Linked DNA regions of Homo sapiens. The protein of the gene in region 2 interacts with the protein of the main gene of each other region in a biochemical or structural test. Each region holds a gene or a part of one and is shown on either strand. Other genes may lie near its edges.

Evidence for each region.
Region 1: the proteins of COQ8A (region 2) and SMURF2 interact in a surface display test, tested with the Homo sapiens proteins (one large-scale study listed by IntAct).

Annotation. Positions count from the first base shown.
Region 1 is NC_000017.11:64,550,497-64,554,307, forward strand, and holds part of SMURF2 (E3 ubiquitin-protein ligase SMURF2), read right to left. Parts: intron 1,209-3,811; coding exon 1,088-1,208; intron 1-1,087. UniProt on the Homo sapiens protein: E3 ubiquitin-protein ligase which accepts ubiquitin from an E2 ubiquitin-conjugating enzyme in the form of a thioester and then directly transfers the ubiquitin to targeted substrates.
Region 2 is NC_000001.11:226,981,701-226,985,511, reverse strand, and holds part of COQ8A (atypical kinase COQ8A, mitochondrial), read right to left. Parts: intron 3,486-3,811; coding exon 3,363-3,485; intron 2,835-3,362; coding exon 2,749-2,834; intron 2,619-2,748; coding exon 2,478-2,618; intron 1,961-2,477; coding exon 1,879-1,960; intron 1,752-1,878; coding exon 1,658-1,751; intron 1,419-1,657; coding exon 1,277-1,418; intron 965-1,276; coding exon 857-964; intron 637-856; coding exon 571-636; intron 259-570; coding exon 172-258; intron 1-171. UniProt on the Homo sapiens protein: Atypical kinase involved in the biosynthesis of coenzyme Q, also named ubiquinone, an essential lipid-soluble electron transporter for aerobic cellular respiration.

The DNA.
Region 1 (3,811 bases), on a different chromosome or scaffold from region 2:
AGGCCAGGTGCGGTGGCTCACACCTGTAATCCCAGCACTGTGGAAGGCCGAGGTGGGTGGATTATTTGAGGTCAGGAGTCCCAGGCCAGCCTGGCCAACATGGTGAAACCCCGTTTCTACTAAAAATACAAAAATTAGCTGGACGTGGTGGCAGGTGCCTGTAGTCCCAGCTACTTGGGAGGCTGAGGCAGGAGAATCACTTGAATCCAGGAGGTGGAGGTTGCAGTGCCACTGCCCTCCAGCCTGGGCAACTCTGTCTCCAAAAAAAAAAAAAAAAAAAAGAGAGAGACATTTAGATTCAATTTATCCTAGGTGTTTTAGTTATTTTCTCGATGATCTTGTCTATCAAATGCTTTCTTGCAAGCTTAGTGTAAAACTAATTCAGAGTAGGCTCTTACCCAAATAAATTTCAAAATGGTAGATTAATGAGGTTTTACTTAACTAAATCAGTAACCACTAAGTTAGGGAATAGACATATATTGGAAGAATGTACATATAAGTCACGAAATCTGTTTAAAACAAGAAAGTACAGGATAGAAAAATAAATTAAAAATTTTCACAATATAAGAGAGACTGCTCACAGCTGGGCATGGTGGCTCAAGCCTATAATCCTAGCACTTTGGGAGGCCAAGGCAGGCGGATCACTTGAGCTCAGGAGTTTGAGACCACCCTGGGAAACATGGCAAAACCCTGTCTCTACCAAAAAAAACAAAAAAATTAGCCAGGGGTGCTGGTGCATGCTTGTAGTCTCAGCTACTTGAGGGGCTGAAGGATCATTTGAGCCCAGGAGGTCAAGGCTGCAGTGAGCCATGATTGCACCACTGCACCCCAGCCTGGGTGACAGAGTGAGACCCTGTCTCAGAAAAAAAAAAAGAGAGAGAGAGACAGATTGTTCACTCACAGAAATTCCAAAGCATGAAAGGCCTTCAAAAGCATGAAAGACTTTTCCTGTGAATAAGAATTCTCAAGCATAGAACCATGAAACTTAGAAAGCACCAGAAATATGCTTTCCTCTAAAACTAAGTAACAAAATAATTCCCAATCCTTCCTTGTTACACTAGTGATGTTATAATACTAATGCACTAACCTCTAACTCCTTCTCATCAAATGTCTTCAGCAGATGTTGTGGAATTACTTCATTAAATCCTTTCTGCAGAGCCAAGAATTGAGCCTCAATGCCTCGTAAAAATCTCCAGTTCACATAGAGCCTGTAAACATTCGGCAGGATTTCGTATAATCACATGTATTTTCAGATCTGGTAATTATTATTATAAATCTCTACTTTAGCAACACCGCATCTTACAAGCATCTAACATTAACGGTTTAGCCTCAAGTCTAACAATAAATCTCAGACTAATGGGGATAAATGAACCCTGAGGTGTGACACAGTTCAATGTTGATGAAAAGTGGTAAACTACTAACAAAAGCAGCATCAGCAGAGCAACCCTTCAAATCAGAGAAGCTCCCAGGAAACAGGACGTCTACTAGAGCTGAGTCTTGATGAAATTTCTTTCTAAACTTACAGCATACATGCCAATAACTAGAATAAAGAGCTCTTTCACTCAAAAATGACTTATTTTTCTGATTTTACTTGCAAATGTAATTTGAATGTGTTGGGTGTTTTGTTTCTATTTGAGGGAGGCCTACGGGAGAAGAGGAGGTAGAGAATCCTCATACCAAAAATGAGAAGAATAAATAGTAAAAGCCAATAGCAAGCACTTTTTGATTAAATAATCATTGTTCTCTAGAGGATATAAAAATTCTGGAAGATGTAATTTTACCAATAAAAAAATGCACTAAACTACATCTATTGTGTGAATGTACGATTTATAAGTGAATTGTTTTTATTTATCTACCCAAGAAAACTTCTCCATCTCATGCATCACAGAACTTACTCATCTGTCAAATTTGTTAACATTTCCAAATTTGGAGAAATGGTTCTCTACTTTAAGAAATAAGTTACTTAACATTATATCCTTTGGAGGACCGTATTTTTGTTTGTTGGGTTAAGGGGACAGCAAAACTGTGTAACTGTAAAAGTTTTTCTTTGAATTTTTAATCTAATAACTGTAGTTGGCAAGGGATTATTACGTGCTGTAAACACGACTGAACCCTGAAGAGTGGGATCCAGGGACTGAGTAGGACACACGAGGTCTTGAAAAGGAGACACTGCTAAGACTTAGGAAATTCTCATTTGTTCTTTTTTTATTATTTTTAATTTATATTAGGTGGAGTCTCGTTCTGTCACCCAGGCTGGAATACAGTGGTGCGATCTCAGCTCACTGCAACCTCCACCTCCCAGGTTCAAGCGGTTCTCCTGCCTCGGGCTCCAAAGTAGCTGGGATTACAGGTGCCTGCCAACACGCTTAGCTAATTTTTGTATTTTTAGTAGAGACAAGGTTTCACAATGTTGGCTAGGCTGGTCTTGAGCTCCTGACCTCAGGTGATCCACCCACCTTGGCCTCCCAAAATGCTGGGAATACAGGCATGAGCCACTGCACCCAGCCTGTTCTTTCATTTTTTTTAAGTAGAAACGTAATACATACTTTTTACGTATATAACAAAAAAATCAAACATTAACTATGGAGACAGTAAAATATGAAAGTCCATTCTTTTACCCTCTTTCTCCTTCCTATTTCCAGTCGCATCATCTCCACTCCCTCATCCTAGGCAAAAACTTTATTTGGTTGCAGCCTCCTGAACATCTTCAGTATAATCATAAAAAAACAGCCAGGCACGGTGGCTTACACCTGTAATCCCAGCACTTTGGGAGGCTGAGGCAAGCAGATCACGAGGTCAGGAGTTTGAGACCAGCCTGGCCAATATGGTGAAACCCCATCTCTGCTAATAATAAAAAAAAGTTGCCAGGTGTGGTTGTGCGTACCTGTACTCCCAGCTACTCGGGAGGCTGAGGCAGGAGAATCACTTGAACCTGGGAGGCAGAGGTGCAGTGAGCCAAGATCTTGCCACTGCACTCCAGCCTGAGCAACAGAGCGAGACTCCACCTCAAAAAAACCCAAAAAAACAAAACAAAAAACAAAAAAAAAACCATGGATTTTGTTCCTACATAATTCTTCTAAGACTTACTTTTAAAATTTGACAGCTTATGCACTTTTAAATATCCACATAATATTCTGCTGAATGTATAATATAATCATTCTTCTCTAAAACCATTTTAGTAGTGTAACTTTTTTTCACAAGTAGCATTTAATTGACCGTCTTTCCCCGTATTCGTTCAGTTACATGTGTGTTTCTGCAGAAGAGCCCTAAACACAGAGCTGCTAGTTGAAGGGCACATGCTGCTGGTATCAAACTGCTTTCCAGAAAAGCTATGCCAGTGTTCACTCCAATCAAGTGGACCTCATATTTAAACTAGGAAACATTTTAGTAAGATTTGGGAACATAATCTATACACAGAAAGTATATCATGCAAGTTTCTGTGTACATAAAGTTCAAGTTCAAACTCCCAAAACTGATTACCATAGTTCTATATTTAGAGGACTTTTTATTTCTCATAAGCCAAATTAGCCCAATACATAAAAATTCCTCAATTTTTACTTTATGAAATCTGAAAAACATTTATTTACATTTATCCCTAAACTCACAATGTGCTCATTTATAAACAGGCTAAGTGTTAGTAAGATAAAGCACAAAAGCCCTTCTGAATTGCCACCTGTGATAGCTACACCACATGTGGCCCCAGTGCCCACATCTCCTGGTATTCACACATTTGTACAGCTCCTCCTCCATGATGAAACTGGGCTGGCTGTCTCAGTTTAACCAGAAGTAGACAGCAGAAGTCATGTTGGCC
Region 2 (3,811 bases):
CAGCAGGGCAGCATGGGCCGGGGTGGGCCCCAGCTTTCAGACCGTGCCCAAGGAGGCCCGGGCTCTGGGGGCCCCTTGAGGGCAGCTGCCCCCTGTGCTTTCATCCATTCTTACACAGGGAGCCGGGCCCTGGGTCAGCAGGCCCAGGGGATCCCCCGCAACCCTGCTCACCTTGACCTCGTAGCCGGTGAGGAACTTCATCTCTATGGATTTCGCCCGCACAGTCTCCCTGTCCCTGTCGGCAGCAGCCCTGATGATCTGGGGAGAGGCACAGGAGGGGACCGTGGGCAGCATGAAAAGCTCAGCTCCCGACATCCCAGGGAGCCAAGTGCCACACCCGAGCCCACCCCACCCTCATCCTCTCCCTGCACAGGGCCCCCGGCCAGTGCTGTGACACCACGCCTGGCAGCTGTCAGCCTAACTGCCTGCTGTCACCAGACCTGAGGGGCAGGCAGCGCAGATGGGGACACAAGGGCAGGAACCCAGTCATTCTCCCTACCCCGAGTCCCCCAGCATCCTGTCCCAGCCTCAGAAAAACATGGACCAAGGCCAGGGCCCCTCTCCAGTTACCTGAATGTAGAGGTCGGTGAAGGATCTGTCATATTCCCGCGTTGCCCCAAAATCCAAAAGAGCCACCTGGGGACAGAGACACCAGGAGAAGTTTGGCCCTGGTGCTCCATGGTGCGGGTGTGTGGGGCCGGGAAGGGGGTGCAACAGAGGGCAGTGAGGATCCCCACTCCCAGAGCCCTGAGCTCTCTGCTGACTTTCCCAGGACAAGGGGCAGTCCAGGGCCTCACGTGCCCCATTCGGAGAAGCTCTCAGGCCTGGCTGCGGGTGCCCCCACCCTGGGGCTCACCTTGTGCTGCTGGGGGTCATAGAAGAAGTTGGACCAGTTGGGGTCTGTTTGCATGAAGTGGAACTCGAACAGCTCCCTCAGGCACAGAACCAGGATGTTGTAGCAGATCTGTGGACAGCGCGAAGGGTCTGTGTCAGGCAGCACCACACTGCCTGGTGCCCTGGGAGACTGGGGCCAGAGAAGCCCCTGCCTCCTGTTTTACCCACCCTACCCTAGGGACTGTTTGATTCCCAGTGTTACTTGGGCCAGGGAAGGCAGCAGCTCCCCTGTGTCCCCCTAAGTCCCACTGGTGCTACTTCACTGCCCCTCACCCCCAGGGAGCACCTCAGGGCTCCAAGTCCCCAGCTCACACTATTAGGTCACCAAACAGCCACACAGCAGGGCCACCCTGGCCCCACCTGTCTGCTGGCACAGACAAACCTCGTTCCGAATCTCCTGGCTGAGCCCTTCGGCCTGGTCCAGGGGGAAGCCAGACACCAGCTCTGTGGTCAGCACATGTGGGCTGCAGAGCTCATCCACAATCTCAGGCACATAGAAGAAGGGGTGGCCCTTCAGCAGGTCCCTGGGTAGGGGAGGGAGGTCACGCCCTAGCCACAGGCCCTCCACACCGTCCCCCCCCCCACACACACCCCCCAACCAGGCAGAGGGCCCTCCTTCACCCCAGGCAGGATATGGCCTCGGCCCAGGCTGCAACCCCAGCCCTCTGCCCCTCAGAGCTGGAGGGGCCTTCACCAGCTGCTGAACATGGTCCCTTCTGCCTCCCTGGTGCAAACACGCAAGGGGCCCGGCCGGGGGCCACACCTGAACTTGCGGGCACAGGCGGCCTCTCGCTGGTAGTCACACTCCAGGGCCAGCTCCCGCCTCAGCACGTCGATCAGGTGCTCGGGGAACAGGCCTGGGCCAGGGAGGAGGGCATCAGCGAGGAAGGGGGCTCTGCAGGGAGGACCCCCTCTGGTCCCCAGAACCCAACACAGATGCCTGCCACCCACTCCTGCCCTTGACCCAACCACCTAGCCTCAGACCTTCTGGAAGCATGTTGCTCATGTTCAACACGGCCATGAGGTTGTTGACATCACTGTTGATGCTCTGGGCCACGCCAGGGTACTGTGGGGGTATGGGTGAGGCAGGGGAGTTAGCCCAGGGAGACGGGTGGGCCCTGCCTGGGGCACTCCCCCAACCCCCAACTGGCTTCCCAGCTGTGTCCTGGCCCCAGCCCACACCCTGGAGAACCAGAGCTAAGACCCAGCCATGCTGCCGTGACCTGGACCCCATCACAGCCTCGTTGTCCACCTACTCCTGCCTCACCTCACCCCTGGGAACAGCTCACGGCCACCCTCCCACCAGCTCTGGCCCCAAAAAGCAATCACTTGTCCCCTGTCCTTGCCCACCCCAAATCAAGCTTGCTGGGGGCCCCTCTGTGCCCCCAAAGTCACTCATTTAGCAAATACTTCCCAAGCTTCTGGTGCCGTCCAGGCACTGGGGCCAGAAGACACCACATATGGCCCTGCCAGGAGAGAGGGTGCCCTGCGGGACGTGGGGTGTAGAGGCCTCCATGAGCCAGGCCCCAGCTCTGCCCCTTGCAGCCCCCATAGGGACAGGCACTGCGCATCAGGCCGCCTACCTGGATCTTCATGGCCACCTCGCGGCCGCCCTTCATTCGGGCCAAGTGCACCTGCCCAATGGATGCGGCGGCGAAGGGCCGCTCCTCGAAGTATTCCAACTTGTCCCGCCAGTTGGGGCCCAGGTCGTTGTTGAGAGTTTTCTGAAGGGCAGGGCCAGGGAGGGGCTCTGAGCATGCCCTGCCTGGGCCACCGGGAGAAGCCCCAAGTCTGTCCCCTCCACCCAGTGGGGGCCGAGGCCACAGAGAGTGGGCAGAGCCCCTGGCTCCTCACCATCATCTGCTTCAGTGGCATGAAGTCCGCGCTCTGCCGCACCCGCTCGAAGATCTTAGCCAGGTGGGGGTTGATAAAGGCATCATCTGGAAGGCAGGAGAATGACACAGGGCGAACCTGGGGATTAAAGTGTGCGCCCAGGACCTGGGCGGGCACACTCCTGGGATGCCCTGGCCACCACACCCTCCCCACCAGGAGCACGGGTGAGGCCAGAAAGACAGGAGCCCTCGCACACACGCCCTCGGCCACTCAGCTTCCCGGGAGCCCCAGCCTCCGCCCAGTGACCTGAGAAGGTGGGCTTTTTACACTCAACATGCAGAGTTTTTCATAATTACAAAAGAAATTTGGAAAATAAAACATAGTAAAATGTTGAAATGACCTGTGTTCTGACCACCTGTAGAGAGCAATTTTTCCTCTCTGCTCTTTATTCCATGTGTTTCTTTGGACCCAGAGCCACCCGTCTGGAGACCAGGCCTATTATCTTCTAAGATCTCTCCCCAGCCTGCTCACATCTTGCCCACTGAGCTTTGGTGGGGCCACTGCTCCCGGCCCTGGAAGTTGACCCCCCCAGCAGCCCACGCAGTCCCGGGGCAGCAGCCCCCGCGCCCACTCACCCTGGATGCTCAGCATCTGGCCCAGCTTGAGTGCCGCACCACGCACCTTGCAGAGCGTGCGCACGATCCGCTCTGCATTGGCCTCGGACAGGAAAGGACTGGAACCCAGCACGGCCTTCTTCCCTGTGGGCGGGCAAGAGGGGTCACCACGGCACTCGGGGGGGTCTGGGAGTGGGATGGCAAGCCCCACCTGATACAGACGGAGGCTCAGACAATGTCCTTCCTCCCAGGCGTCCATAAAACCAGCAACATAACTAACTACTGTTCCATGTCCACCTCCCCAAGCCTGTGTGAGCCACATGCCCAGGCCCTACGCCAGCGCCTCCCAATACACACAGGCATGCACACGTACATATGTGCACACACAAACGCACACACACAAAGGGCCTCTCCCTTCCATATGGGGACCTGGCGGGCCGTGACAGGGCCATGGTGCTGCCTGTGGCTGG